Linked DNA regions of Homo sapiens. The protein of the gene in region 1 purifies or fractionates together with the protein of each later gene. This does not show direct contact. Each region holds a gene or a part of one and is shown in the gene's direction. Other genes may lie near its edges. The genes, in order: OBP2A, CLN5, COL6A2 and TXNDC15.

Region 1 (7,114 bases):
ACTAATTCTTTGTTGAATATGTAGTTTGTCAATATTTTCTTTCAGTCTTTGGCTTGTCTTTTTATTCTGTTAACAGGGTCTCTTACAGAGCAAAAGGTTTTTATTTTGATGAAGTCTATTTTAACAATTTTTCCTTTTATGGATCATATTTTTGGCAACAAATCTAAAACCTCCTGACCCAGCTCCATATGTCAAAGATTTTCTTGTTTTCTAAAAGTTTTATAGTTTTAAGTTTTATGTTGAAGTCTATGATCCATTTTGAGTTAATTTTCATACAGGGTGTGAGACCAAGGTTGTGGTTCTTCTTTTTCTTTGGTGGTTTTGTCTGTGGATGTCCAGTTGCTCCAGCCCGTTTGCTACAAAAGCTATCTTTCCTCCACTGAATTACTTTTGCATCTTTGTAAAAATGTAATTGGGTGTATTTGTACAGGTCTGTTTGAGGATTCTTTATTGTCTGTCCCATTGATCTATGCATCTGTCCATGTGCTAGCTATATAAGTCTTGAAAGGGTAGCCTGTAGCTGGGTGTGGTGGCGAGAGCCTGTAATCCCAGCTATTCGGGAAGTGGAGGCAGGAGAATCGATTGAACCCAGGAGGTGGAGGTTGCAGTGAGTCAAGATCGTGCCACTGCACTCCAGCCTGGGTGACAGAGTGAACTCCATATAAAAAAATAAAAACAAAAATAAAGTAGCGTGATTTCTCCCACCTTATTCTTTTTTAAAAAAGTTTTAGCTATTCCAGTTCCTTTGCCTTTCCATATAAATTTTAGAATAATCTTGTCTATATCTACCACAATTCTTTCTGGAATTTTGATAGAAATTTTGTTACATCTTTATATTATTTGAGAGAAATGATATTTTTACTATGTTGAGTCTTCTAATCCATGGATATAACGTCTCTCCATTTGTTTAGATCTTCTTTGATTTATTTTATAATCATTGCATTGTTTTCAGCATACAAATCCAGCATATGGGTTGTTAGACTTATGCCTAGGCATCTCATTTTTTTAGCCATTATAAATAGTACTGTGTTTTTAAGTTTAGGGTCCATTACTAGTATGTAGACACACAATTGATCTTTGTATATTTATCTTGTGTCCTGCAACCTTGCTGAACTCACTTACTAGTTCTAGGAGGTGTATTGTTTTCTTTTGTTTTGTTTTTCAATTTCTTGGGATTTTCTACAGAGATAATAATGTCATCTGCAGATGCAGTTTTCTTCCTTCCTTTCCAATTTGTATGTCTTTAATTTCCTTTTTAAAAAACCTATATTACTCTGACTAGAACTTTCTGTACTATGTTAAATACAAGTGGTAGAGTGGACATCCTTGCCTTGTCCCTGATGTTAAAGAGAAAGCATTTGTAACTGAGTATCCCAGCCTCAAAATGTGCTTAAAAACTTTTTTCCTTTCTTGCTTTCAGCCTTGAAACATACTTCGAAACTCTTTATTTCTCCCTTTCCCACCAGGCACTTCCGTGAGCAGTGCTCGCTTATCTAATTATGTGCTTACTTAGAAATTCCAGGGGCCAATTTTGAAACAAACCAGGCAGAGAGACCCAGCTGCAGAATCCTCCCTCTTAGGGGGAGTTACAGGTAGCCTACCACTTCCCGGCTGAAATCAGGATGACGCAAACCAGACCTCCGGACAGACGATTGATGACTCACAATAACCATCAGAACAAGATGCAGACCAACATCCTCCTGCACCATTCCCACATATTTCCCACACCTTTTCCTCCTTAAACCCCTTCGCTCAGTCCAGAAAATCTGAATGGTCTTTTAAAGGCATGGGTCTGGCCATTCCCCAACTGCCAGTATTTGAATAAAGCTGCTTTCCTTTTACCACACCTCACTTCTCATGCCTTGACTTCTGAGCAGCGAGCAGCTGGACTTGAGCCAGTTACACATCAGTCTTTCACCATTAGAAATAATGTAGCCATAGGTTTTTTTTTCGTAGATGTTCTTTTTCAAGTTAAAGAAGTTCTCTTCTATTCCTATTTTTCTGAGAGGTGTTATCCCGAATGAGTGTTGAATTTTGTTAAATACTTTTAACAACCCAACAGGAACCACCATCAGAAGCCATCCAGAGAAACGCACCAGGCCACAAAGCACTGGGGGCCAGGGATCTTGCCCCTGCTGTCTGCCATGGGTTGACCCCCAGCCTCCAACCCTACCATCCCCTGACGGTGTCTGCAGCAGTTGAACCCAACCAGCATCTAAAAGAACACAGTTGGTGAACGAGACTGGGACACAGGGCAAGATGGGTGGACAATGGGAGGCTCCTGGAGAGCACCCGTACCAGCGAGCATAGAATTCATGGGGGTGACCTGTTCCCTGAAGCATCTGCGCGTGTTGTTCCAGCATTTTCTTCAAGGATTGAGCCAGCAGCACCAGTGTCATACGGTGCTTAAATCAATGATTCACAACCAACCAATGAAATACAAGGTGCCGGCTGGGCGCGGTGGCTCACGCCTGTAATCCCAGCACTTTGGGAGGCCGAGGCGGGCGGATCACAAGGTCAGGAGATCGAGACCATCCCGGCTAAAACGGTGAAACCCCGTCTCTACTAAAAATACAAAAAAAAATTAGCCGGGCGTAGTGGCGGGCGCCTGTAGTCCCAGCTACTTGGGAGGCTGAGGCAGGAGAATGGCGTGAACCCGGGAGGCGGAGCTTGCAGTGAGCCGAGATCCCGCCACTGCACTCCAGCCTGGGCGACAGAGCGAGATTCCGTCTCAAAAAAAAAAAAAAAAAAAAAAAAAGAAATACAAGGTGCCTGGGGTACAGGCAACAAAAATGGGGAACGGAGAAATCTTCCCGTTGAGGTAGAGACTCCAGCCTGTTTGCTCATCTCTGGTCCTGAAGAGCCCAGTCCCCGCCCTAAGGATGGGGTTTCTGCTCGGCAGCACTTGCCGTGAGAGGGGTGAGGCACTGGGTCACGCCAGCCCTTTCTTTATAGCCCCCAGGGTTTATTAGAGTGTGCATTAGTATTATTTAGCAAGCACTTGAGGGTGTCTGATCTTGGGCCAGAGAGGCACAAAGATTGTGTGGGCCCAGCACCTGCCTGCAGAGCGTGGGTCAGCCTTGGGTCCCAGGGCAGATGACGCAGGCCCGGGAACTACAGGGTCCAGGAGGGAGAAGGCAAAGTTCTGGCTCAGGTTGGCTGGGGATGAGGCCAGCGGAGCCAGGTGCCCAAGGGAGCTCAGCCACAAACTCTGAGCACAGGCTGGCAGGTGGCTCTTGATGCTCATGCCACCCATTTATCTAAAGGGATGAGATTCAAGGCCTGTCCCGGTGGCTGGGGGCCGTCGAAGCTGACGAGAGAGGGGATGTAGAGTGAATGTATATTCCACTCTACCACTTGTATTTAACAGGGAGATGGATGATGAACACGTGCAGGAAGAAACAGGCAGGACAATCCAGAGAGATCACGTGTTCTGAGGACAGCACAGCCAGGCTCCGGTACGGAGTGAAGCGGGGTGGGGCAGGCGGCGGGGTCCCTCATATGGCCCGAGGAGGCCGTATATATACTGACCTTGAACCACACAATAGTGCCCTTCTCTGCCCCTAGGAAGCTCGAGTGCAGGGTCCAGGTGGGGAAAATCAATGCAGAGTGGGTCCCAGAGTGGGCGGAAGCTTGGGCTCTAGGGCGTGCGGGACTCAGCTGGCAGCAGCCCCACGTCTCTATGGTTCTAAAGCCCAGTCCATTTCTGCTCAGCAGGGAGATGGCCAGTTCCCCAGAGGACTTGCCCAGGGTCCCAGCCGTGGCCCTGGGAGGGCTCAGGGGTGAGGGAGGAAGAATTCCGAGCCGTGGGCCCTCCCTCTGTGGCTCGGGGTGCAGACGTGCACTACCCTGCCCTGTCCTCTGGAGTCCTCCGGGCTCATCCAAGTGGGCGCATTTGGATGCAAACCCTGGACAGCATCGTGTGTCTTTTCTTCTCTGGCTGGCACTGAATTGCTGTTCACCAGATGCCAGCAATGAGGACACTCCCCCTCCCGGATGCAGGACTGGTTGCCACCATGGGGAGGGGTGCACCGTGCCACGTGCTCCCAGGACACTGGCCAGGGGGCTATAAAGAACATCTCGAGAGGAGCCAGCACAGCCTTGTTCAGACGCCCAGTGACCTGCCGAGGTCGGCAGCACAGAGCTCTGGAGATGAAGACCCTGTTCCTGGGTGTCACGCTCGGCCTGGCCGCTGCCCTGTCCTTCACCCTGGAGGAGGAGGATGTGAGCTGGGTTGGCGTGGGCGGATGGAGGAGCCAGGTGGACTCCTGGGCAGGGGGCAGTGCCAGGGGCCCTGCTTTAGGAGGTGTCACTGAAGGCTGGCTTCTGACCCCGTGCTCCCAGCCTGGGGTGGTGGTGGAGGGGTCCTATTGTTCCTCCAGCAGACACGGCCCCCCGAGGCCCAGGGCCGGAGCAGGCTCGGCTCAGGGGTTCCTGCTGCACTGACGCCTGAAGCCCGAAGGTCTCGCAGGGTTGGGCCCTGTGGAGGGAGGGCTCACCTGGTGCTGGGGCCCGGGGGTCCATGGGGTGCAGACATGCCCTCCTTCCACTGGGGGCTGGGAGCCCTGAGCAGGGGGCTGGCTCTAACTCACTCCAGCTGAGCTCTAACTAAGGTGCAGGAACCCAGCCTGCCTTTAGGGGTGGCAGCCGGGCACCATGGGTGTCTGGTTATAGCTGCAGGCCTGAGTGCCAGGGTCAGAGTAGAATCTGGGCCACCCATGGTGGGCTCACGGCCTTGGCCTGCTCCAGATCACAGGGACCTGGTACGTGAAGGCCATGGTGGTCGATAAGGACTTTCCGGAGGACAGGAGGCCCAGGAAGGTGTCCCCAGTGAAGGTGACAGCCCTGGGCGGTGGGAACTTGGAAGCCACGTTCACCTTCATGTGAGTGTTGCCCACTGCAGGGCCCCTCAGGCCACTTTCGCTCCCCGCCCCAGACCCACCTGGTGCCCATTGCCCCATCCACATTTCGGGTGTTGGGAAGAGTCACCCCCTGCCTTGGAGGGAAACAGCCAGGACATCCTGAAGCTCGGTGGGGTGGGGGGGCAGTGGAATTTTCAGGTTGCCGGGTCAGGGCCATGCACCAGGTGAGCTGAGGATGGGCCAGGTGTGTCCTGGGAGCCGCTGCCCGAGTGTCTCCTGTTTTCCAGGAGGGAGGATCGGTGCATCCAGAAGAAAATCCTGATGCGGAAGACGGAGGAGCCTGGCAAATTCAGCGCCTGTGAGCCCCTCCCCGACCCCCCACTCCCCATGCCCAACCCCGGATGCACCAGCCCCACTGCAGGTGGAGAGTGCCCAGGCCACACTTCTGCCAGGGTCCCAGCCCTGCCCACCTCCAAGGAGGGGCTGGCCTCTCCTTCCTGGGGGGCTGGTGGCCCTGACATCAGACACCAGGTGTGACAGGCTTGTCCACAGTAGAGATGGACCAGATCAAGCCTGCCCTCTGGGAGGCCCTAGCCATTGACACATTGAGGAATCCGAGTGTTAGGGACCAGGAGGCCGAGGGTTAGGGATGGGAAGCCAAGGCTGAGGGTTTGGGATCAGGAATCCGAGGGTTAGGGACAGGGAAGTGGGGCAGGAGCAGCTGCTGGAGCTGGGAAGGCCGGACTCTAGTCCTGGACGTGCTCTGGCCTTGTGGCTCCATTACTTGCATTGGGACCTTCCGAGAGGAGGCTCCTGCCTCCGTGTCCGGGTCCATGCTGTGCGGAGCAGCCAGGCCTGGCTCAGGCTGTCCAGGGCACCTGGGTGACCACTGAAACATTCCTGAGTGTTTCTTCGTGTGGTCCTGAGTGCTCTCTCCGGGAATGAGGGCACTGAAGACCCATCTTCTCTGTCATCTACAGATGGGGGCAGGAAGCTCATATACCTGCAGGAGCTGCCCGGGACGGACGACTACGTCTTTTACTGCAAAGACCAGCGCCGTGGGGGCCTGCGCTACATGGGAAAGCTTGTGGGTGAGGGGCCCGCTGGGGCCTGCATGTCCTGCCCCATGGTCTCTGCCTCCAGAAGCCAGTGGAACCACCATCATCACGCCCTGGCACGGGGGGAAAAGGAAGCCCCCTGCGCCGGCCTTCGTGTGCTAGGCACCAAGCGCTGCCCTGGATGGCTGGTCCAAGTTCCTGAAGTGGGAGTGGGGTGGGCCAGGCAGGGACAGACACGGCCCTCGGTGACATGAACCTGCCAAGGGCCGCTTGTGGGGTCTCAGGTGTAGGGGCCTCACCTTAAGGGGGAGGTAGCATCTTAACAGAGCTCTTCATGGGGCAGGGACTCTCCAGGGCGGCAGGGCAGCCAGTGCCTCTGGGACACAAGGTCCCTCCAGGTGAGGGTTATGACCCTGCAGAGTGGCTTTGGGAGCTGCCCAGGTCCCCCTGGGGTTGCTGAGTGGCTTGGACCCTGCCACTGTCCCCTTTCCTGGGGACCTCTCACCTGGGCGGTGGCCGTCTCCTCTGTCCCCAGTCCCACCCCTGAGCTCTTGTCCATTCTCAGGCCTCCTCTCCCCCTTGCCTGGTGCTGGACAGTTGCCATCTCTTCTGTCCCCAGCCCCACCCCTGAGCTCTGATCCACTCTCGGGCCTCTCCCCCGTCCTGATGCTGGGCCGTGGTCGTCTCCTTTTAGCATCTGCTCCCTGCAGGGCCGTGCCGCTGTCCCCACCTTGGCTCACCTGGCCACCTCACCTGCAGGTAGGAATCCTAATACCAACCTGGAGGCCCTGGAAGAATTTAAGAAATTGGTGCAGCACAAGGGACTCTCGGAGGAGGACATTTTCATGCCCCTGCAGACGGGTGAGGACGGCTGTGCCCAGTACCCCGTGTTCCCCTGTGTCTCTGTGTGATCTCCAGTGTCCCATGACCCCCATGTCCTCCCATGTCCCCCGCATTCCCCGTGTGCCCCGAGTCTCCTCGCAGGGGCTCTGGGCCCTGCTTAGCATCCTCGTCGTTGGAGGGTCTGCACTCTGGGCTGCGATGCGGTCTGGGGCTCCGCGCTCTGGGCTGCGATGGGGTCTGGGGCTCCGCGCTCTGGGCTGCGATGGGGTCTGGGGCTCCGCGCTCTGGGCTGCGATGGGGTCTGGGGCTCCGCGCTCTGGGCTGCGATGGGGTCTGGGGCTCCGCGCTCTG
Region 2 (8,006 bases), on another chromosome or scaffold:
TGACCAACTATGCTACAGTATGGGGATCAAAAACAAACCTTGAACAGTGGAAAGGGCAACCTGGCCGAATACGGCCTGGATTCTGCTTTCACCTCTGCAGCCGAGCTCGTTTTGAGAGACTTGAAACCCACATGACACCAGAGATGTTCCAAACACCATTGCATGAAGTTGCTCTTAGCATAAAACTTCCATGTCTAGTTGGAATTGGCCAGTTTCTGGCCAAAGCAATTGAAACTCTCCCTTTGGATGCTGTGATTGAAGCAGAACACACTCTTAGAGAGCTTGATGCATTAGATGCCAATGATGATTTGACTCCATTGGGACGAATCCTGGCTAACCTCCTCATTGAGCCTCGTTTTGGCAAAATGATGATAATGGTGTGTATTTTCTATGTGGGAGATGCTATCTGTACCATTCCTGCTGCTACCTGCTTTCCAGAGCCTTTTATAAATGAAGGAAAGTGGCTGGGCTACAACCATTGAAATTTTGCTGGAAACGGATTTTCTCATCATGTAGCCCTTTTATCAGTATTCCAAGCCGGAGATGATACTAGAATGGGTGGAGAAGAAGCAGAAATACGTTTTTGTGCGCACAAAAGACTTCATATGGCTACACTAAGAATGACTTGGGAAGTCAAAGTTCAGCTCAAAGAGATTCTGATTAATTCTGGGTTTCCAGAAGATTGTTTGGTGACACAAGTGTTTACTAACACTGGACCAGATAATAATTTGGATGTTGTTATCTCTCTTCCTGGCCTTTGGTGTGTACCCCAATGTATGCTATCATAAGGAAAAGACAAAGATTCTCACCACTGAAGGGTGTAATGCACTTATCCACAAATCATCTGTTAATTGTCCTTTTAGTAGCCAAGACATGAAGTACCCATCTCCCTTCTTTGCATTTGGTGAAAAGATTCGAACTCGAGCCATCTCTGCTAAAGGCATGACTTTAGTCACCCCACTACAGTTGCTTCTCTTTGCCTCCAAGAAAGTCCAATCTGATGGGCAGATTGTGCTTGCAGATGACTGGATTAAACTGCAAATATCTCATGAAGCTGCTGCCTGCATCACCGCTCTCCAGGCAGCCACTGAGGCTCTGGTTGTTGAAGTAACCAAACAACCTGCTATCATCAGCCAGTTGGACCCCGTAAATGAAAGTATACTGAACATGATCCGTCAAATCTCTAGACCCTCAGCTGCTGATATCAACCTTATGATTGGCAGTACATGGTATGGAGATGGTCCAGGTCCTCCTAAGATGGCCCAATATGACAATGGAAGCGGATATAGAAGGGGAGGTTCTAGTTATGGCAGTGAAGGCTATGGCAGTGGCTATAGCAGTGGAGGCTATCGTAGCGGAGGCTATGGTGGCAGCTCCAGCTCCTGTCGGGCAGGATATGGTGCAGGTGTTGGTGGAGGCTATAGAGAAGTTTCCTGAGGTGGCTATAGAGGCAACTCTGGAGGAGATTACAGAGGGCCTAGTAGAGGCTACAGATGATCTGGGGGATTCCAGCGAGGAGGTGGTAGGGGGGCCTATGGAACTGGCTACTTTGGACAAGGAAGAGAAGGTGGCATCTGTTAAGGCTTGGTTATGTCAGTTCCTGTGTGTAGACAGTAAGAAAAAAAAAGCCATGCTATGTGTGACATTTTTTTCCAATGTTTATTTCCCACCAAAAAGTAAATGCATTTTAACCCATTCTGTGGTTCACTGTAGCTTAAGGAAACCAAGCATATAGATGCATTAGTGATTTTGTTTATATTATGTAAAATGTAACGATCTATCTTAGAAATACCACAGTTTGTATTTTTCTTTAAGGAGTAAAGATTTGTCTTTAAAAATAACTTGATATTTTCCTGGCTTTCATTTAATACAATGGAAAATAAAGTATTACACGAAAAAAAAATTTTTTCTTAGAGACAGTATCTCATTATGTTACCCAGGCTGAAGTGCAGTGGCTATTCACAGGCACGATTATAGCTCACTATAGCCTCAAAGTCCTGGGTTCAAGCCTCCTGAGTAGCTAGAACTTCAGGTACATGCCACCTTGCCTGGCTTCCTGCTTTCTTATTCACTAAGAAACTTTGTTCTCTAAAATCATAGATTAGAGACAACTTCGTGTTTGAAATTACATCAGTAACAATAAAATATCCCACCTTTGCTTGAAGGACCTCAGTCATTCCACACAGAGAATTGGCCTCAATTTACAACCCAGATGTCAAGCTTCTGATAAGGGGTTTCCAGACACAAAACTCCATCGCTATTTTAACTTCATAGTCTCCAAGGAAATAGGCCCTTCATCCACTTTGCAGTCTAGACCTAGAGCCTGTGTGTTGATGGCAGCAGCAGGCCGTCTGGAGCAGCCACTACCATCATTGACATACAGCCTTGTTTTGCTTTGAGTCTACCAAAATACTGCTTATTTAAATTTCATCTCAACTCCACACTTCCCCAGAATCCTATCACTCTATCTGGGGAGATGCCATGTGGTCCAGGCAGTCTTAGGCTGAATGGGCAAGGATCCAAGGGAAACCAATTAGATTGAAATTAGTTCTGTCTGTGGGCCCTCAAGATTTAAAAGCCATGGACAAGGGGGAAGCAACCAGTATCGACCAGCGATAATCTATGAGCACCTTCAGCTTGGGGTGTGGGGTCATAGACAAAAAGAATGGGGTTTAATCAGTGTTCCCATCCAAGGCAAAACCAGACCAGAAGAATGGGAGCTACCAGGAGGCTGAGTTAAGACCAATACTAGGGCCAGGCATGGTGACTACAGCCTGTAATCCCAGCACTTTTGGAGGCCGAGGCAGGTGGATTACTTGAGGTCAGGAGTTCGAGACCAGCCTGGCCAACATGGTGAAACCTCGTCTCTACCAAAAAAAAAAAAAAAAATTACAACTGGCACACACTTGTACCCAGCCACTAGGGAGGCTGAGGCAGGAGAATTGCTTGAACCCGGGAGGCGGAGGTTGCAGTGAGCCGAAATCACATCACTGCACTCCAGGCTGGGTGACAGAAGGAGACTCCGTCTCCAAAAAAATAAAAAATAAAAACCAATACTAGGAAGTGCTTTCTTACCATGAAAGCTCCCTGCACACAGAATGAAGAGACAGATGGCAGAAGCAAGACCAGAGGCCTCCACCACTGAACAAGGTCAACCTGAATTTGTTTTTGTAGCTCTGGGAAGTCCTGAACTGAATGGGAGGTTCTACTGTGGCCCTCTACTAACAGTAGATGGAACCTGGAACCATCTACTGTTAATTGTCCTTTTAGTAGCCAAGACATGAAGTACCTATCTCCCTTCTTTGTATTTGGTGAAAAGATTTGAACTCGAGCCATCTCTGCTAAAGGCATGACTTTAGTCACCCCACTGCAGTTGCTTCTCTTTGCCTCCAAGAAAGTCCAATCTGATGGGCAGATTGTGCTTGCAGATGACTGGATTAAACTGCAAATATCTCATGAAGCTGCTGCCTGCATCACCGCTCTCCAGGCAGCCACGGAGGCTCTGGTTGTTGAGGCCATCTACTGTGGCCCTCATACATCATACTGTGTATGGTTCCAGGATTTGTAAATGCTCTAATCAATGTTTTTTTTTTTTTTTAAAGCTGTTCCTGCTGATTGCTTTTTAAGCTAGGCTCAAGTGTGGGGCCACGGAATCCTTCAGGTGCCCTTCAAATCAGACATTACATTTCAGCTCTCAGGGCTAGAATGCTTCCCCCTCTTATCTTGGGCAGGTCTTTGAAGAAGCCAGTTTAGCCTTGGTAATTTTGAATTTGGCCATAGTATACGGAGGAGAGCTAGGTAGCTATCAAAACGCTTAGACAAACGTATGGTAAAATGCAGCCCAGCCTGAACCTCCGCAAAACCCCCAAACCTGGAGCAGCAAGTGGGCAAAGGAGTGTGTGTTTGGGGCAGGGTACTGAGTCCCATATGTAATCAAGAGACCTGGAGGGCCCAAGGAAGTCAGTGACACCCCCACAAGCTACATATCCTCCAATGGATTGTGGTGGTCATCTCCGGCTACCGAAGCCACCTTGCTTATTCCCATAGGCTTACAAACATTATGATGCTTCACACGAGTTGTGGGTGAAGTGAAGGAATTGGAAAGTCCCGGTCTAAGGCCCTGCAAAACTGCTGTCTGGTAAAAACAAGTGACTATGGCAAGGCCCTGAATGTACTACGTATAGACTTAAGTCAGTATTTGTGCCTAACAGCAAAGCATGCCACAAGAGGCTCCTCAAAAGCCGGGTAATTGATGCCATTGTTTTCTTGACCTAGTTGAAGAGTCAAAGAAGAGAAGGTGATGCAGAAACTTCTTTCCAGTGAAGTGACAGATCCAAGCAAGGAACACCTGCCTGTGAGGGGAGCGGTAGGGGAGGGGGTAGATTCGGCAGCACTCGGGTAGTGGCAGGGACCACATATTGTCGGTGTTAACCACTGTTATCACTGGCCCAGGTCGAGTGAGGACGAGTCATTTCCCCACTAAGCACTTGGGGAGTGGCAGGGACCACATATTGTCAGTGTTAACCACTGTTATGACTGGCCCAGGTCGGGTGACGACGAGCCATTTCCGCACTATTGTCCCTTCTTCCTCACTGCACCCCCAGCCCTGCACCCTCAGCTCCAAATACACATTCTCGTTCACTCAACGTTTGTTGACACCTAGCGTGGGCCCTGTGGGATGGGGTAAAAGTTCGGTGTTGGGAGGAGCCCCGGTGACAGATTTTTGGTTTTGGTGGTGGCTTTTGGGCAAGGACAGGTCAATTCATAAAAGATGACGCCCCAGGTCTGGATCGAATTCTCCTGGGAGCCAGACCAAAGCACCTTCCTGGACTGCAAAGTGTGGAAGCCGCCGCGGGCCGGGCGCGGGGAGGTGTCATGCGCCGGAACCTGCGCTTGGGGCCAAGCTCTGGAGCTGACGCGCAGGGGCAAGGCGCCCCGCGTCCCGGACTGGCGGCTCCGCGCATGCTCCTCCCACCGGCGTCGCAGGCCTCGAGAGGCTCCGGAAGTACTGGGTGCAGCCTGATGGCGCAGGAGGTAGACACGGCACAGGGCGCCGAGATGCGGCGGGGCGCGGGCGCGGCTCGGGGACGCGCTTCCTGGTGCTGGGCCCTGGCGCTGCTTTGGCTCGCGGTGGTTCCGGGCTGGTCCCGGGTCTCGGGCATCCCCTCCCGGCGCCACTGGCCGGTGCCCTACAAGTGAGTGCGGCGGCGCGCGCACTGTCGGGGTTGGGGTCGGCGTTGACGATGGGGGATGGGGTGCTGGGGCGGGGACCCCTGCTCACCGTGGTTTGTGTCGGGTCACGAGATGGTGCGGGGACAGCGCCGGGTGACGCTCGGAGCGCACTTGAGAGCAAAGTTGAGGACTGGGGAGTCGCAGCCGCTCGTTACGTGCAGCCCTGGGACCTTTCGTCCCCTCTGGTCACTTGCGGCAGACTCAGGACAGTCCTGAATCGTGGAAGAAGAAAAGGAGAGTAATGTTATTTAATGGAGGGACTTCTGGGTACAAGTAGCTGATTTCTTGAGTAGTTTAAAAACACTGTCTATCGCATTTATTTATATCATGCACTGTCGTTAGTTATTACCGCGGAACATTTGGTACAATTTACTGGGCGACCAACTCGCTCTGGTTTGAACCTGATCAGAACCTGATCCGAAGTCCTTATTGGGACTTCCCAGTTTTGCCCTCAAAAGTCGCGCATCCCGGGAATCCCCGTCTCCTGCAGTCCTGGTTAGACCGGGAAGATTGTCACCGCTTTTGTCCAGTCTTCAGCCTGGAGGTAGGACGCCGGTCCTAAGTCGGGGACAGAGCCCGCACACCTGGGAGGTCGATTCCAGCCTTTGACAGAGAAGACACAGCCTCCGGCGGTCAGAGATAGCTAAACACAGAGAAAGAAAACATGGTGTCAACATCAGGCAGGAGAAAGACCAGCAGTTTTTGAAAACAGCTATTTTTCTTTAAACCAAAAGCATCATTGGACATAATTTTAACTTACTAGCATAAGTAATCAACAGCTAAAACTGCACACAACAAACCTGAAAAAAACAGCTATTTTGTATGACAGTATGAGTGGGAAGGAGTTCTGCCTGCTGCGGGTCAAATCTGGCTCTGTCATCACCAGGGATCTTGGGAAAGTTACTCAGAATCTCTGTGCCCACATGCCCTGAGTCAAAAAATAGGAATAGTGGTAGCACGTACCTCATAGGTTTGCTGGAAGGATTAAATCTAGTAAAATGCCAGCTGTTGTCAAACCTAGATAGTGTATTCTGCTCACTGAAATGTTTACAACACTTTTTTGTTTTGTGTGATATACTACGTGGAAAGAGAAGTTTGTGGTTGAAGCTAGTTTTCTGGAAAATGTTAATAATAAAATGTTTGTAAGAAGTCAAAATTACTCAATAGAACAAGAATTGTAAATCCAAACGATTTGATTTAACATTAGGGCAAGGTGTTGACTATGGCTTTTTAGTGGATTTTTTTTTTAAGTCTCAGATATTAAGTACGTGCTCCCATCTAATTCCCTCAATTGAATATAATATTTAAGTTTATTAAGTTCACACTTAAATTACCTTTGAACTAAAATAGATTTTGCTGTGTCAGTGAAATCTCCATGTGATTATGTATTTGTTTAAACCAGGTAAGTGCCTATAAAACACTGTACCCAAGTAGCAGAAACTTTTGGGAGCGTCGTTAATAGTTTCGATTAGCATAAAGATTTTAACTTCTTAAGTTAAAATAGAAATTTTTGTTGATTTGTTAAGATTTGTTAGATCTGGCTACAACCTTGGGGATCTAGGATTCTTAGATAGAAGCTGTTGTCGCCACCACTTCTTTCTTTCCCAGTGCCAGATTATAGGTGACCAGTGTGTCTGTTGAGCTGAATTCAGCTGCAGTGCCCCTCGAGTCCTATTGCTGTGGCCTTCTCCGGTCTTCTTTTCTTGCCTGCATTGTTGAGGTCACCTTCTAACTGATCTCTCATGTTTTATTTGGCCTCTCTCCATACCCTCTTTTAATTCGTGAAATAAGGTTTACTTTATAGCAAATTCAGTCCTGTCAGATCTGCTACTTAACATCCTTTAAGTTTAGCCCTCCCCAATTATAAGGCAGGGAATTCCATGCACATTCTCCTAGTGACAAAATGACAGCCCCTGCCAGTCTCTTCCGTCTCCATTCCTGCGTCGAGGCCTGAAATCCAGTCTTCCGTACCTACCGGAGACCAAATGTGCCAGGCTTGTCTTACAATACTTAACATTTCCTCTGCCTTTCTGTCTTAACCTTCTAATCAACTACATTAAAAACCTAGGCCCGGCCTTCATCTCTTTCTTTGCCCTCCCCACCCCATTCATCCCATACCTGGTTAACAATGATTTGTCCTTCCTGTGTGCCCATAGGACTCATTCCTTTAGTCTAGCACATACCACACTCATTACTTGTTCAGTGTCTTTCCAGCTCCCACCCACAGTTCCATGAGAAAGGGAACAGTGTTTTAATTTTTGTTTCCCTCCTTCTTACTATAGTTCACTATATATGTAGTGGAGCCTCAATAAATATTGGTTGAATGAATGTTAATTCGTAAGTAAATATAAAATGTATTCTGTTACTCATAATTATCTGAATAATCTTAATGTATGGACTGTTTGTAAAATTGAACACATTGGAAAAATGTTCATTTATTCTGTAAACATTTGCAAATGTCTACTATGATCTGGAGCTATAAAAATTTTAAGACAAAATTCCTGTCTTCAAAATTTTCACAGTGGGATCAGGGAACAGGGAAGCCCGTATTTATCAGAGTGCTTTTAGTTTATCATTTGCTATTAAAAACATTATTGGAAGTTTGTTCACAAGATAACAAAATGTGTGTTTATATTTATTAACTATGGTCCGACCTTTGAATGGTCCCCTAAAAATGTTACTGGATTCTAAAAGACGTGAGAAGAATCAGATTCATTTTAGAATCTAAGTAGATGGTTTCTTTTTCTTTATTAGGCGCTTTGACTTCCGTCCAA
Region 3 (7,405 bases), on another chromosome or scaffold:
TACTTCAGTGCTCTGGTCTCAGCTTCCTCTGCAAGTGGTGGCAGGGCTGTGCTGGAGGCATGAGAGGGGTGTGGGAGCTGCAGGCTCTGGCAGGTGGCACGCTGGGGTTCTTGGAGAGGGGTGTGTGGCTGCCAGGGGACTACTGCTGTCATTGCCATCTGCAGAGACAAACAGAAACCCAACACGGCAGCCATCACTGGGGCCCCTTCATGGGAGGGATAGGGTGGAAATTGCAGGTCCCAGCAAGGCCTCAAAGCAAGTGCCCAGCCTCCCCTGATCAGTCCAACCTGAAGCCAGGTCCTGGTGTGCACAGAGATGCACGGCTGGGCTGCCCCACCTGCTTGGGCCACAGGAAGCATTTCTCTAAAGGTGAGCAGCTTCCTCTGCAGGTGACACGGCCTCCACCCAAACCCAGAGGCTCTGGCTCTCCCACTGCGGCTTGCCGCAGCCCCACACTTGCCTGCTCCCACACTGACACCTCCAACACCACAGGGGCTGCTGGGTCACGTGGCCCAGATGGCAGGGCTGCTCAGACAGTCATTTTCTGCTCCTGGCCGCCTCGAAGCTGGCAGCCTCCATGTCAGCCAAGCCGTGGGTCAGAGCAGTGCCCCCAGGAATTAAATATGTTGCCTTCAGAACCCAAAAAGGCCTGTCAGGCCCTGTGCTTCCTCCTTTGAAGTAGGGGATGCAAGATGTAGCAATTTCTCTTTTACTTTAGAGGATGTCCTGGTATGAACCTGATCACTGGTGCCCTAAAAACTTCCATGAAGTTAGGTCCCTGAATCCTCGGAGTTCACCTCCCACCCACAGATGCAAATGTGTCTCATAAGGCCTCTAGCTCATGACCCTCCTGTTCCTCCTCCTGCCCATTATGTCGTCACTGTAATGGATCAGTGTGGTGTCCGGTGCACTGCTCAGGTGCCCAGATCTTTTCAGGCAATATTAGGACAGAGGACAGAGTTAGCGTGGCCCTGCACTAAACTGGGAATGAGTATTGTTGTTCCTCCCATGTAAATGCAAACTGTTTCCGATCCTCTTTTCTAATTGGAATAGAAAAGAATGCAATGGCCAATCACTGGCCTCATTAATCTGCTACGATGATACGTCTGACACAGCAGATGCAACTGGAGCTACTACCGGGTTCAGGCTAAGTGGTCTGGCGTCACTTTCTAGGATCCATCAGTCTTTGCAATGACCAGGCCAGAGAATTAGACACGACAGTCCACCACCCTCGCCTCCGTGAGGCCTTTAACGGTGGTGCCATCCTCCCAGGATGCAACGTGGTTTGTGATTTACTCTCTTGGCCATGGAAAGGGGACTTCCCCACTATGATGTCTGTCACCACACAGGCCTGGGATCCAATATATGGCTACTCCAGCCACCAAGTACATAAATTATAATTACATACTCAGGGGGCAGGGAAGCGGCCACTGGATGGTCTTCTGGCCCAGGGGTCTCACTGTGCCCAACACTTTAGCCAGGATTCCTTTTTATTACCTGGCCCCGTCAGCCCCTTCTCTAACAGGGAGGCCACAGCGACACTTTTGGCCTCCAGTATCAAGGTCCACTCACATCCCGCGTCCATTTGTCCTCAAAATCTCTGGATTTTCCCAGCGTGCAGCCAGCTGAGTGAGTGACAGCGGGATTCTACAGAACATCCTTGTCAAGGTATTGCCTGGTCCTTCCTTCTGGTGACCTGGCCACCTCTGCAATCAATGGTTCCAGACAGGAAATTAGCTCAAGTCCAGGAATGGAGTAGGGAACCACGATATTTTACTGGAGTCCCCGCCCTCGGCCTCTTTCTTCCTTCCTCTGCCGTCCGCCAGGGCGGCTTGGCTCAACATGACCCATCGCTTTCTCCAGGCTTCTGGGAGCCATCCCAGAATCATCTTTGACCCACGACCTGCAGAACTTGCCAGGTAACTAATCCTATGTGCCAAGCAAGTGCCTCCGCCTCAATAGTTCTTCTGTCCCCCTGGATAAAGCACCCTGGAAATCTAATACCGGGGGTGTTCCCTGGCTCCTGCAGGCACATGCTGGCTGCCTCGTGCAGTTCCTGGACATGCAACCTCTCTACTCCCTGGTCAGGCCTAGCAGGTCCCCATCCAGGTTACCCTGGACTTTCTCCCTAGTCACTGCTGGCAGCCAAGAGACAAGGTGGAGCAGCCCCCAGTGAGGGCACCTGCTGCTCTGGTAGGGGAGGCCCCTGGAGCATCTTCCAGCACAGAGGAAGTGCTGGCTTCCAAGGGCAGGAGGGGCCCCTCTGCAAGCTCTGAGGGGACAGGGGTCTGCAGGGCCATGCCCTCAGGGCTTCCACCTGGATGTCTCAGCCCATGTTTCAGGGTCCCAGATTTTCCCAACCGGGGTCCAGACCTTCACATAGGCCAGCCGTGGCCAGGCATCAAAACATGCCTAGAGCTAGGTGGTCCCCACAGTCACTGTCGGCTCCTCAGCCATACTGGTTCTACCTCTGCCAAACATGGGACTCCTTTTCAGCAACCAGAGAGGCCCTTTGTTCTCACACCAAGCCTGATGGGCAACCGTGGGTAACGTCGCAATCTCCATTCATCCCTCTGTGGAGCATCAACCCCACTCCCCCCATGCACTGAAAGGGGGAAACTGCCACACCCACAAGGCCTCCCCTTCCACCAGGAAAACGTCCCAGATCACTCTTGGTGAAAACATTTAACAATTGGGGCCCTAACTTTGTGCCAAAGATTACCCATATCCCCACATCAACCAGAATGGTGTCCTCGGTGTTGGCCGGGAAACGGCCACCGCACCAGCTGAGTCTCAGGCCCCTCCTGCACCACTTGTGTTAATTGGGGTCTTCCAAGAGGCAGGTGCCATGGAAGCTCTGACGTGACTGGAGATTTATCAGTGCAATGTCTGTGAAGGATGCTGGGGGGGTGGCCAAAGAGGACGGAAGCCTCAGACCACAGGTGAGACCCCTGTGAAGGAGATACGGGGAGCCTTGGCCAGCACGTGCCCCTAGACAGTGCTGGCCAGGCCGAGGGAGAACTTCTGGAGCCAAGGTAACCCCTAAAGGATTCTGGTCTTGTGAGGAGGGGCCTGGCTTCCCCCTGGGAGCTGCTGGCTTGGAAGCAGGAGGCATTGCCCAGGTGAGAGTTCGGCATGGACCCAGGGGAGTGGCACACGGTGCCCGCCGTCAGCTGTGCTCAGGAGCAGCAGGCAGGAGCCCTGGACTCATGGCTACCATGTGGCTGCCACACTCAGGCACACTTAGGCACATACACTCACACTCAGGCACACTTAGACACACACATTCACACTCAACCTCAGACGCAGACACACACCACACACTCACAGATGCACACAGTCTCAGACACAGACACACACCACACACAGATACACACACCACAGACTCAAACTCAGTCTCAGACACAGACACACACCACACACTCAGATGCACACACCACACACACTCAGTCTCAGACACACACACACACCACATTTGCAAACCTGCTCATCAGAAGAGGGACCTCGCCCCCAGCCGCTCCGCCACCTTCCAGGACAGCTCTGAAGGGAGCCCTGTCCCGGAGCCCAGGGACCTCTCCCCAACCCGGCTGCGCCTCACCTCAAGGAGGAACCCCGGCCCTGGCTGGGGGACTGTGACCAGGGTGGGGAGTGGGGACCCCAGACAGAGCCCTACCAGGGACCCCTGTCACTCTGTCCCCGGCTGGGCTCAGGTGGGGACCTCACGGTGGTCCCAGGGCCCAGCACCAAGCCCACCTGTGGTTTCCAGCGGGAAAGGGGTGGCAGGGGTGGCTCGCCGCATGCCCAGGCTCTGCCCCAACCTCCGCGCCCAGGCTCTGCTGTCCCTGCCCTCCCGGCTCCCCACCCTCAGGCCCCAGGAGCGGCAGTTTCTGCAGGAGCTCCTGACCCGGGGCCTCTCGCGGGAGGCCTGAGCAAGCCGGACACAGGACACGGGGTAGGGGAGGGGTCGGGGGGCTGATGGGGGGAACCCTGCACCCCCCAGGGCAGCTGCTACCAAGGGGCGAGTCCCAGGGCCCCCGTCGGCCCTGCGTGCGGGGCGCGGTCCCCAACACCCAGGGCCCCGGAGGCGGACACAGCCCCAGCCAGGTCGTCCGGGAAATGGGGCGGGGGCGACGGGCGGCCGGGCCCGGGACGCGAAGTCCGAGCAGCAGCGGGCAGGGGCTGGCGGGGGAGCTCGGCCCGGGCTGCAGGGGGGTCCCCACCCTCTCCACCTCCTCCAGCCTCCCGCCCTCGAGGGTCCCCGCTTCCCTCCCATCCCCCTCCCGTGCCCCCGGCCCCCTCCTCCCATCCGCGGGGCCGCAGCGCTTCCTGGCGGCGGGGCGGGTCAGGCCGGCGGGGCGGGGTATAAAGGGGGCGGCGCCGGCCGCGGTTCCCTCCCTGCTGCTTACTCGGCGCCCGCGCCTCGGGCCGTCGGGAGCGGAGCCTCCTCGGGACCAGGTGAGCGCCTCCCGGACCCCGCACCCTGGAAGCCGCTCGGCCCGCGGGGGGTGACCCCGAGTCCTGGGAAGGCGGCGGCGGCGGCTCCGTCCCTCGGGTCCCCGGGAAGGGGGACTCCAGCCCCAGGGACGGCGGGGGGCTCGGCGGGTTCGGGGCTCCTCCTCGCGGGGCTGGGGCCGCGCCTGCCCCTGTGGCTCCGCGTCTCTGGGTCCGACCCTCGGGCGCGCGACTTGGGGCCACCTCCCCGCGGCCTCCTCTGGGGCGGAGCCGGCCTGGGCGGGGTGGGGGGGTCCCTGTCTGCGCCCGAGCTCGGTGCTGGGACCCCCGCTCCCGAGACGACCCCGGCACCGCACGCCCCGCCAGGCCCCGCGTCTGCGAGCGGTTCGGGTCCGGCTCCGGCCCGCGGGGAAGACGCCCCGGCTGGCTGGGACCTCCGGGGGCGCAGGGCCTCTCCCCGGGCCGGACGGAAGGGGCGGCGGGGCGGGGGGAGGAGGGGCTTTCGGTGCCCGAGGGCGGGACTGGGCGGGGAGGGGACGCGGGTGGCCCCGACGCCCCATCGCTGCGCCCCTCCCGGCCTGGAGCCCACCAGGGCCCCGCCAGGCCCAGGAGAAGCTGCAGACGGAGGCGGCTCCCCAGGGCGGCGGGACCCGGGCTGACAGCGACCCGCAGCCCCTGCCGGGCCGCCCACACCCGCCCTGGGACTCCGCCGGGGCGCTGGTGGAACCGCTGGGCCTGGGTCTCCACTGCTGGCAACCGAACGGATCGGCCCTCTGTGGAGCCGCAGGTGTGCGGGCGAGCGGCGCCCATCCGGGCTGTGCCAGCAGAACCCCGGTGCCCGCGCCTAGGACGCCCCTGGAGAAGGGACCTTCCCTTTGGGGTCGGAACCCAGAAAGGAGGGGCCTGCGATCCGCGGAGCTCCTTGTTCTTGGGATAACACAGCTCTGGCTTGGAGGCCCCCTTGCACTTCGACTCTGGTGATTATTTCAAGAAAGGCCAGACCGGGCACGGTGGCTCACGCCTGTAATCCCAACACTTGGGGAGGCCGAGGCGGGCAGATCACCTGAGGTCAGGAGTTCGAGACCAGCCTGGCCAACAGGGTGAAACCCCGTCTCTACTAAAAATACAAAAAAAAATTAGCCGGGCGTGGTGGCAGGCACCTGTAATCCCAGCTAATCGGGAGGCTGAGGCAGGAGAAAATCACTTGAACCTGGGAGGCGGAGGCTGCAGTGAGCTGAGATCGCGCCACTGCACTCCAGCCTGGGTGAGGGAGCGAGACTGTCTCAAAAAAAAAAAAAAAAAAAAAAAAAAAGGAAAGAAAGGCCCGGTGAGATGCTTTCTCTTAAACACGGCCCTGCACGTTGAGTTGCTGCCTCCTGTGGCCTATTTCACGTTTATGCAAAGTCGGGCGCCTGATGCGGGGCTCACCCGCCACAAGCAGGGGTCCTGGTGCTGCTCATGGAAGGGGCCCTACCCAGCCCGCGGGGCACTGGCTGGGACGGGGCTGCCCAGGTCCGCCCAGGATCCAAACACCCAGCCCCGCCCAGCGGCCCTTCCTGGCCTGCAGTGGAGGCTGTAATGGGCAGGGGTGGTGGGAATCCCAGCTCACAGGGCGCCTGCTCTTAGAAGGGCGGCATCTGGGTCCAGAGGTCAGAAACGTCAGATGCCCATCCCAGAAGTGGCGGGGAACCTGTCTCCACAATGGATAGCAGCACTGTCTTTTTTTTTTTTTTTTTTTTTTTCTCATTTCATAGATAAGGAATGATGCCTTGTTGGGGGGTTTGTTCTGCATGTCTTTGGTTTTTGTGCAGTACAAGGCTATTTGGGCTGTTTGATCACTGACCGTGTGTAGTGATGTGCATTGCCTGGTTGTGATGTCCCCATGTTCCTAATGGATGTTCGCTTTTTGGGTTTTTTTGGTTTTTTGTTTGTTTGTTTGTTTTTTGAGACAGGGTCTTGCTCTGTCACCCAGGCTGGAGTGTGGTGGTGCTATCACTGCTCACTGCAATCTGCACATCCCTGGCTCAAGCGAGCCTCCACCTCAGCCTCCGAGTAGCGGGGACTACAGGCATGCACCACTGTGCCCAGCTAATTTTCTTTTAAGAGACGGGGTCTCACTATGTTGCCCAGGCCATGGATGTGTTTGTTTGTTTGTTTGTTTGGGGTGTTTGGGGGGTTTTTTCTTTTTTTATTGATTTGAAAAAGCTTTATTTTCCCGAATTTTTTATTGTGGTATACAATATAAAATGTACTGTCTTAACCATTTTTAAGTGTGCAGCTAGTTCAGCGACAGTAAGTACATTCATAGTGTTGTGTAGCCATCACCAAGGTCCATCTCCGGAACTCTTTTCCTCTTGTCAAACTGAAGCCCATGGAGCACCAACTCGCATCACCCCTTCCCTCCCCTGGCAGCCACCATCCTACTTTATGTTTCCAGGAATTTGGCCATTTAGGTGACTCATATGAGTGAAATCGTATGAAATGTCTCCTTTTGTGACTGGCTTATTTCACGTGGCTTAATGTCCTCCAGATTGATCCACACTGTAACGTATGTCAGCATTCCCTTCCTTTGTAAGGCTGAGCAGTATTCCACTGCATGCATGCCCTGCATTTTGTTTACCCATTCGTCTGTTGCTGGACACTTGTGTTGCTTCCACGTTTGAGCTACTGTGAATGATGTGGCCATGAACACACCACACAGATACCTCTTGGAGATCCCACTTTCACTTCTTTTGAGTATGTTCCCAGAAGTGGAAATGTGGATCATTTGATTTTTTCATTTTTTTGAGAATTAATTGCCTCACTGTTTCCCACGGTGGCTGCACCATTTTGCTTTCCTGCCAACAGTGCACAAGGGTCCAGTTTCTCCACATCTGCACCAACAGGTGTCATTTTCCGGGTTCGCTTGGTTTTTTTTAAATGTTAACCATCCTAATGGGTGTGAGGTGGTATC
Region 4 (7,020 bases), on another chromosome or scaffold:
CAGCCTCCCAAAAAGCTGGGATTACAAGCATGCGCCACCACGCCAGGCTAATTTTGTATTTTTAGTAGAGATGGGGTTTCTCCATGTTGGTCAGGCTGGTCTCGAACTCCCGACCTCAGGTGATCTACCCGCCTCAGCCTCCCAAAGTGCTGAGATTACAGGTGTGAGCCACCGAGCCCGGCCAATTTGATTGTTTTTATTTTTATTTAGTTATTTTTTTGAGACAGGGTCTCACTCTTTCGCCCAGGCTGGAGTGCAATGGCTTGATCTTGGCTCACTGCAACCTCTGCCTCCCAGGTCGATTTGATATTTTTAATATCTTATATCTTGATATCTACTTTACTTTTTGAATGCAATACAGTTACAATTATTGTTTTAATATCCTTGTCTGCTAATTGTGACATGGGTGCAAGTTCTGGGTCAGTGTGGCTTGATTGATTATTCTCATTATGTGTCCTATTTTCCTGCTTCCTTATATGTCTGATAATTTTTTACTGGATGCCAGACATGAATTTTACTTTGTTGAATGCTGGATATTTTAGATTCCCTATACATATTCTTTTTTTTTTTTTTTCTGAGACGGATTTCTCTCTTGTTGCCCAGGCTGGAGTGCAGTGGCATGATCTCGGCTCATTGCAACCTCCACCTCCTGGGTTCAAGTGATTCTCCTGCCTCAGCCTACCGAGTAGCTAAAATTACAGGTGCCCGCCACCATGCATGGCTAATTTTTATATTTTAATAGAGACAGGGTTTCACCATGTTGGTCAGGCTGGTCTCAAACTTCTGACCTCAGGTGATCCACCCACCTCGGCCTTCCAAATTGCTGGGATTACAGGCGTGAGCCACTGCACCTGGCCCCGTATATATATTCTTGAGCTTTGTTCTGGGGTACAGTGAAGTTACTTGAGAACAGCTTGATTCTTTCAGGTTTTGCTTTTAAGCAAGCAAGCTGTTATTTTCTTTAGGGTTAATAGTGTCCCACTACTGACGCAGGTCCTTTTGTATACTCTACTCAATACCCTGTGAATTATGAAGTTTTTCAGTCTAGCTGGTAAGAAGAGGTACCATTCCCTGCTCTGTGTGAATGTTGGGTACTGTTCCTTCCCATCCTTTCTGGTAGTTCTTTCTCTGGCACTGGGTAGTTTACTCACATGCATGTGATGACCCGTACCCTGCTGTATACTTGGGGGGGCCTCTGCAGATCTCTGGAGTCCCCTCTCTAGATAGCTCCTCTCATCTGCAGTATTCTGTCTTGCAAACTATGGCTTCTTGGTCTCCTTGGACTCTTAGCTCCATCTCCTCAACTGGGAGAGTCTGCTGGGCTCTGCCTGGATTTCCCCTCCCTGAGCCACAGTGGGAACGCCATCAAGGCAGTAAGTTGGAGCAGTTGTAGGGTTCTCTTCATTTGTCGCCTGTTTCTCGGATGTCACTATCCTCTGTTGCCTCATAACTGATTTCCTGAAACTGTTGTTTTATATATATTATCTATTTGGTTGTTTCAGTAGGTAAGGTAAATCTGGTTCTTGTTACTCCATCTTGGCCAGAAGCAGAATTCCCAGATAATGTTTTTGAATCTCTGAATGAATCCACAGAGCTCTATGCCCTAGTGTGAGGTAGATCAGTAGGGTAACTGTAGTTCATAATAGCCTATTGTATATTTTAAAATAGCTAGAAGAGAAGAATTTGAATGATTCTAGCATGAAGAAAAGACAAATATTTAAGGTGATGGATATCCCAAATACATTGATCTGATCTTTACAAATTGCATGAATATATTGATTATCACATGTGCTTTGTGATTATCACATGTACATCTGTTATGCATCAGCAACAACAAAAAGCTCTACAGGGATATTCTTTGAAATCTTATACAAATGTGCATACCTGAGGAAGCCCCCAGACCTTCCCAACTTTGAAGTCAGTTGGTCACTGACACTCCAGTGACATGCTGTTGGCACGCAGAACTCATCACCCAGCGGGTGGTTTCTTAACCACATGGTGAGCTTTCGTGAGGGCTGCTGGCCTCACTGGTTTCTGCTGGTTGGTGCCTGGCACAAAGTCTGGCAGCTGGTGTTGAGTTGATGAGTTGGAGGGCAGGAGGCATTGCTATGGAGGTGAGTGGAGTTGGGTAAATAGATGTACGAGACTACCTGGGACTCTTCCCTTATCTGAGCATTATGCTCAAGACCCACCTTCTAGCTCCAAAGTGGGGGAAAGTTCTCTTCTTCCTCCTGCTGCTGCCTCTGCACTGCCGAGCCCATCTCCCAGCACTCCCAAGGGCAGCAGCCCAAGGGTGGCAGGCAGGAGAGCAGAGTCCAGCTGTCAGAGGCCACCTCAGGAAGGAGCTGCTGTGTGGCTTGAACAGTGTTCTTCAGGCAGTGTGGCTCAGCATCCCCGAGGTATCATGGCAGGGAGCCTACGGCTCGTTCTGGAGTAGCAGCCAGAAAACTTTGCTCGCAGACTTGGCTTTGCTGCTTACTATCTGTGTACCATCGGACACTGTGCTGAGCCTCTCTGTGCCTTGCCTCGTTACCTGTTCAGTGGTCTTGGTAACCCTTGTCTTGCCCATCTCACAGGACTGTTATAATGTGTGCAAAGATGCTTTGTTCTAGTAGAATCTTGCATAAAACCATGATCCTTTTCTTGGATATTATCAAACAAATGAAACTCTTATCAAAAAATGAAAGTGTTTATATTCTATTTTCCTAATGAGATATCTGAACTGGAATGTTTTTGGTTATAATCCACATGGCAAGCAGCAAGTTTAGGGCAGAGCTGTGTGTTTGTCTATTATTTGACATTCATTATTTTGTTTGCTTGTTTGTTTGTTTGTTTTTTGAGACGGAGTCTTGCTCTGTCGCCCAGACTGGAGTGCAGTGGCGCAGTCTTGGCTCACTGCAACCTCCGCCTCCTAGGTTCCAGCAATCCTCTTGCCTCAGCCTCCCTAGTAGCTGGGATTACAGGTGCCTGCCACCATGCCCGGCTAATTTTTATATTTTTAATAGAGACAGGGTTTCACCATGTTGGCCAGGCTAGTCTTGAACTCCTGACCTCAAGTGATCCACCTGACTTGGGGCCTCCCAAGGTGCTAGAATTACAGGTGTGAACCACCATGCCCGGCCTTCTTTGACATTCATTAATTTATTAATAGTACCTGCTTGTGACCTTCTTCCTAACCTGGGAAATGGTGAGTAGCTCTCTGATAGTTTAATGAAAGGAGACCTTTTTGTCTCCAGAGGGGAAAATTTCGTGTTAGAGGGGAACTGTAATTCTTTGGGGTTCATTTGTTTTGAAGTCAAATATGACTCTGAATGTGCTGGCATGTTTTAGTTGCAGAGGAAAGTGGTCGCTTATGGTCAGAGGAGCAGCCTGCTCACCCTCTCCAGGTGGGGGCTGTGTACCTGGGTGAGGAGGAGCTCCTGCATGACCCGATGGGCCAGGACAGGGCAGCAGAAGAGGCCAATGCGGTGCTGGGGCTGGACACCCAAGGCGATCACATGGTGATGCTGTCTGTGATTCCTGGGGAAGCTGAGGACAAAGTGAGTTCAGAGCCTAGCGGCGTCACCTGTGGTGCTGGAGGAGCGGAGGACTCAAGGTGCAACGTCCGAGAGAGCCTTTTCTCTCTGGATGGCGCTGGAGCACACTTCCCTGACAGAGAAGAGGAGTATTACACAGAGCCAGAAGTGGCGGAATCTGACGCAGCCCCGACAGAGGACTCCAATAACACTGAAAGTCTGAAATCCCCAAAGGTGAACTGTGAGGAGAGAAACATTACAGGATTAGAAAATTTCACTCTGAAAATTTTAAATATGTCACAGGTAAGGAAAAATTATTTAGTGCTTTTCTCCTTTTCAGTACATTTATTTTATGATTAATACCCTATCAACTTTGAAATGGAAAATCATGATCTTGATCATATTGTAAGCGAGATAGCATTTAATGGCTGCTTCAGTGAAAATCAACTTTGCCCTCTGTGATGTTTATAGGGAGACGAGGAAATATAACTAGTGTTGATTATGCTTTTCAGATGGCCTAAACCTAGTTATCCTTGGGCCAGTCTCACCACCAAACCTCACGATAGAAATCCCAGTGGACAGATAGTTGCTTGGCACCAAAATCATAGCATTTTTCCTTTTGAGACAGAGTTTTGCTCTTGTCACCTAGGCTGGAGTGCAATGGCATGATATCGGCTCACTGCAACCTCCGCCTCCTGAGTTCAAATGATTTTCCTGCCTCAGTCTCCCATGTAGCTGGGATTACAGGCATGCACTACCATGCCTGGCTAATTTTGTATTTTTAGTAGAAATGGGTTTCACCATGTTGGCCAGGCTGGTCTCAAACTCCTGACTTCAGGTAATCCACCCGTCTCGGCCTCCCAAAGTGCTGGGATTACAGGTGTGAGCCACCGTGCCCGGCCATTTTTCTTCTTCCAAATGAAGTATTTATTTATTACAGAGGCAATTTAAACATATCTGGATTACTAAAATTATAATTTACCATTATTTAGACTAGTAATGCCCCTGGAAAATATGTTATATTGATGAAATTTTCTCTTTCATCAATGACTGACAATTTCTGTGGGGTGGTTCAGAAAACAGAAGGGTAGGATGCATTCACACTGCTTATGTAAGAGAGGTAAATCCTGACTCTAAGAGCTGTGACTGTTGTCAGTGAGGGCACAGCACCTGTAGTGCACATAGCTCCTCCAAGGGCAGTGCTCGGCGCTGGCTTTGCATCCACTCCTGAGTGCCTGTAGATGCTGTGGTCTGTGGGACTCCCACAGGTGTCACTCACATGACTGGGAGAGAGCAGTTTAAACAGTCTGAGTTATGGATTAAACAGGTGGTGGCAGGGACGGTGTACCCTTTTTCTTTTTTTGACACAGAGTCTCACTCTGTCACCCAGGCTGGAGTGCAATGGGATGATCTGGGTTCACTGCAACCTCTGCCTCCCGGGTTCAAGTGGTTCTCCTGCCTCAGCCTCCCGAGTAGCTGGGATTACGGCACATGCCACCACGCCTGGCTAATTTTTGTATTTTTAGTGGAAACGAGGTTTTACCACGTTGGCCAGGCTGGTCTCAAATTCCCGACCTCAACTGATTTGCCCTCTTTGGCCTCCCAGAGTGTTGGGATTACAGATGTAAGATACTGTGGCTGGCTAGGACAGTGTACTCTTGAATTGATCTAACCTTTGGCCAAACATATCGATATGACTGCTTAGTTCAGACTTAGCTCTGCTGAGATGATAGTTTGGATTTGAGATCGTAGTCCTCTAATAATTCCATTTTAGATGGTTTGAGATGCACAATTCAAAGGTGGGGGCAATTGCCTGGACCCTGTGAGTACTTAGTACAGGCATACCTCAAAGATACTACAGGTTTGGTTCCAGACCACTGTGATAAAGCAAATATCGCAGTGTAGCAAATCACGTGAATATTTTGGTTTCCCAGTGCATACAGAAGTTATACTATATTGTAGTTTATTAAGTATGCAGTAGCATTATGTTTAAAAAATGTATATACCTTAATTTAAAAATACTTTATTGCTAAAAAATGCTAACGATCATCTGAGCCTTCAGTGAGTTGTAATCTTTTTGCTGGTAGAGGGTCTTGCCTTGATGTTGATGGCTGCTGACTGATCAGGATGGTAGTTACTGAGGGTTGGGGTGGCTCTGGCAATTTCTTTGAGACAGAGTATTGCTCTGTCACCCAGGCTGGAGTGTGGTGGTGAGACCATGGCTCACTGCAGCCTTGACCTCCCAGGCTCAAGTGATCCTCCCAGCTCAGCCTCCCAAGTAGCTGGGAATACAGGCATGTGCCACCATACCTGGCTAATTTTTTTCTTTTTTTTTTGTAGAGATGAGGTCTCACTATGTTGCATAGGCTGGTCTCAAACTCCTGGGCTCAAGTGATCCTCCTGTCTTGGCCCCTCAAAGTGTTGTGAGTCGTGAACCACCATGCCTGGCCCACAGTTTCGTTTCGTTTTTTTCTTTTCTTTTCTTTTCTTTTCTCTTTTCTCTTCTCTTCTTTTCTCTTCTCTTTTCTTTTCTTTCTTTTTTTTTTGAGATGGAGTCTCACTCTGTCACCCAGGCGGGAGTGCAGTGGCGTGATCTCAGCTCACTGCAACCTCCATCTACCAGGTTCAAGCTATTCTCCCACTGCAGCCTCTCGCCGAATAACTGGGATTACAGGCGTGCTTCACATGCCCAGCTAATTTTTGTATTTTTAGTAGAGACAGGGTTTCACCATGTTGGTCAGGCTGGTCTTGAACTCCTGACCTCAAGTGATCTGCCCACCTTGGCCTTCCAAAGTGCTGGGATTACAGGCATGAGCCACCACACCTGGCCTGTGGCCCACAGTTTCTTAATTCCTTTCACGAAAGAATTCTCTGTAGCATGCAATGCTGTTTGATAGCATTTTACCCACAGTAGAACTTCTTTCAAAGTTGGAGTCAATCCTCTCAAACCCTGCTGCTGCATTATCAACTAAGTTTATGGAATATTCTAAATCCTTTGTCGTCATTTCAACAGTGTTCACAGCATCTTCACCAGGCGTAGATGCCATCTCAAAAACCTACTTTCTTTGCTTATCCATAAAAATCAACTCCTCATCTCTTCAAGTTTTATCATGAGATTGTAGCAATTCAGTCCTATCTTCAGACTCCACTTCTAATCCTAGTTTTCTTGCTATTTCTACCACATCCGCAGTTCCATTCTCCATTGAGGTCTTGAATTCCTCAAAGTCATCCACGAGGGTTGGAGTCAGCTTATTCTAAACGCCTATTAATGTTGATATTTTGACCACCTGCCATGAATCACAGATATTTTTAAAGTCATCTAGAATGGTAAATCCTTTCCAGAAGGTTTTAAATTTATTTTGCCCAAATCCATCAGAGGAATTGCTATCTATGGCAACTATAGCCTTATGAAATGTATTTCTTAAATAATAAGAGTTAAAAGTTGAAATCCCTCCTTGATTCATGGGCTGCAGAATGGATGCTGTGTTAGCAGGCCTGAAAACAA

Evidence for each region.
Region 2: the proteins of OBP2A (region 1) and CLN5 purify together in Homo sapiens (affinity purification with mass spectrometry; 2 studies listed by BioGRID and IntAct, with this or other methods). This does not show direct contact.
Region 3: the proteins of OBP2A (region 1) and COL6A2 purify together in Homo sapiens (affinity purification with mass spectrometry; 2 studies listed by BioGRID and IntAct, with this or other methods). This does not show direct contact.
Region 4: the proteins of OBP2A (region 1) and TXNDC15 purify together in Homo sapiens (affinity purification with mass spectrometry; 3 studies listed by BioGRID and IntAct, with this or other methods). This does not show direct contact.

The regions. Positions count from the first base shown.
Region 1 is NC_000009.12:135,542,029-135,549,142, forward strand, and holds the start of OBP2A (odorant-binding protein 2a isoform alpha precursor), read left to right. Parts: upstream 1-4,097; 5' UTR 4,098-4,152; coding exon 4,153-4,224; intron 4,225-4,749; coding exon 4,750-4,883; intron 4,884-5,149; coding exon 5,150-5,220; intron 5,221-5,842; coding exon 5,843-5,953; intron 5,954-6,614; coding exon of another isoform or gene 6,615-6,679; coding exon 6,680-6,781; intron 6,782-7,114. UniProt on the Homo sapiens protein: Binds and transports small hydrophobic volatile molecules with a higher affinity for aldehydes and large fatty acids, including undecanal, palmitic acid, efficient aldehydes, benzenic aldehydes, heterocyclic aldehydes and aliphatic acids.
Region 2 is NC_000013.11:76,987,077-76,995,082, forward strand, and holds the start of CLN5 (bis(monoacylglycero)phosphate synthase CLN5), read left to right. Parts: upstream 1-5,004; 5' UTR 5,005-5,022; coding exon 5,023-5,195; intron 5,196-7,986; coding exon 7,987-8,006. UniProt on the Homo sapiens protein: Exhibits palmitoyl protein thioesterase (S-depalmitoylation) activity in vitro and most likely plays a role in protein S-depalmitoylation.
Region 3 is NC_000021.9:46,093,719-46,101,123, forward strand, and holds the start of COL6A2 (collagen alpha-2(VI) chain isoform 2C2 precursor), read left to right. Parts: upstream 1-4,393; 5' UTR 4,394-4,455; intron 4,456-7,405. UniProt on the Homo sapiens protein: Collagen VI acts as a cell-binding protein.
Region 4 is NC_000005.10:134,884,365-134,891,384, forward strand, and holds part of TXNDC15 (thioredoxin domain-containing protein 15 isoform 1 precursor), read left to right. Parts: intron 1-3,330; coding exon 3,331-3,818; intron 3,819-7,020. UniProt on the Homo sapiens protein: Acts as a positive regulator of ciliary hedgehog signaling. Involved in ciliogenesis.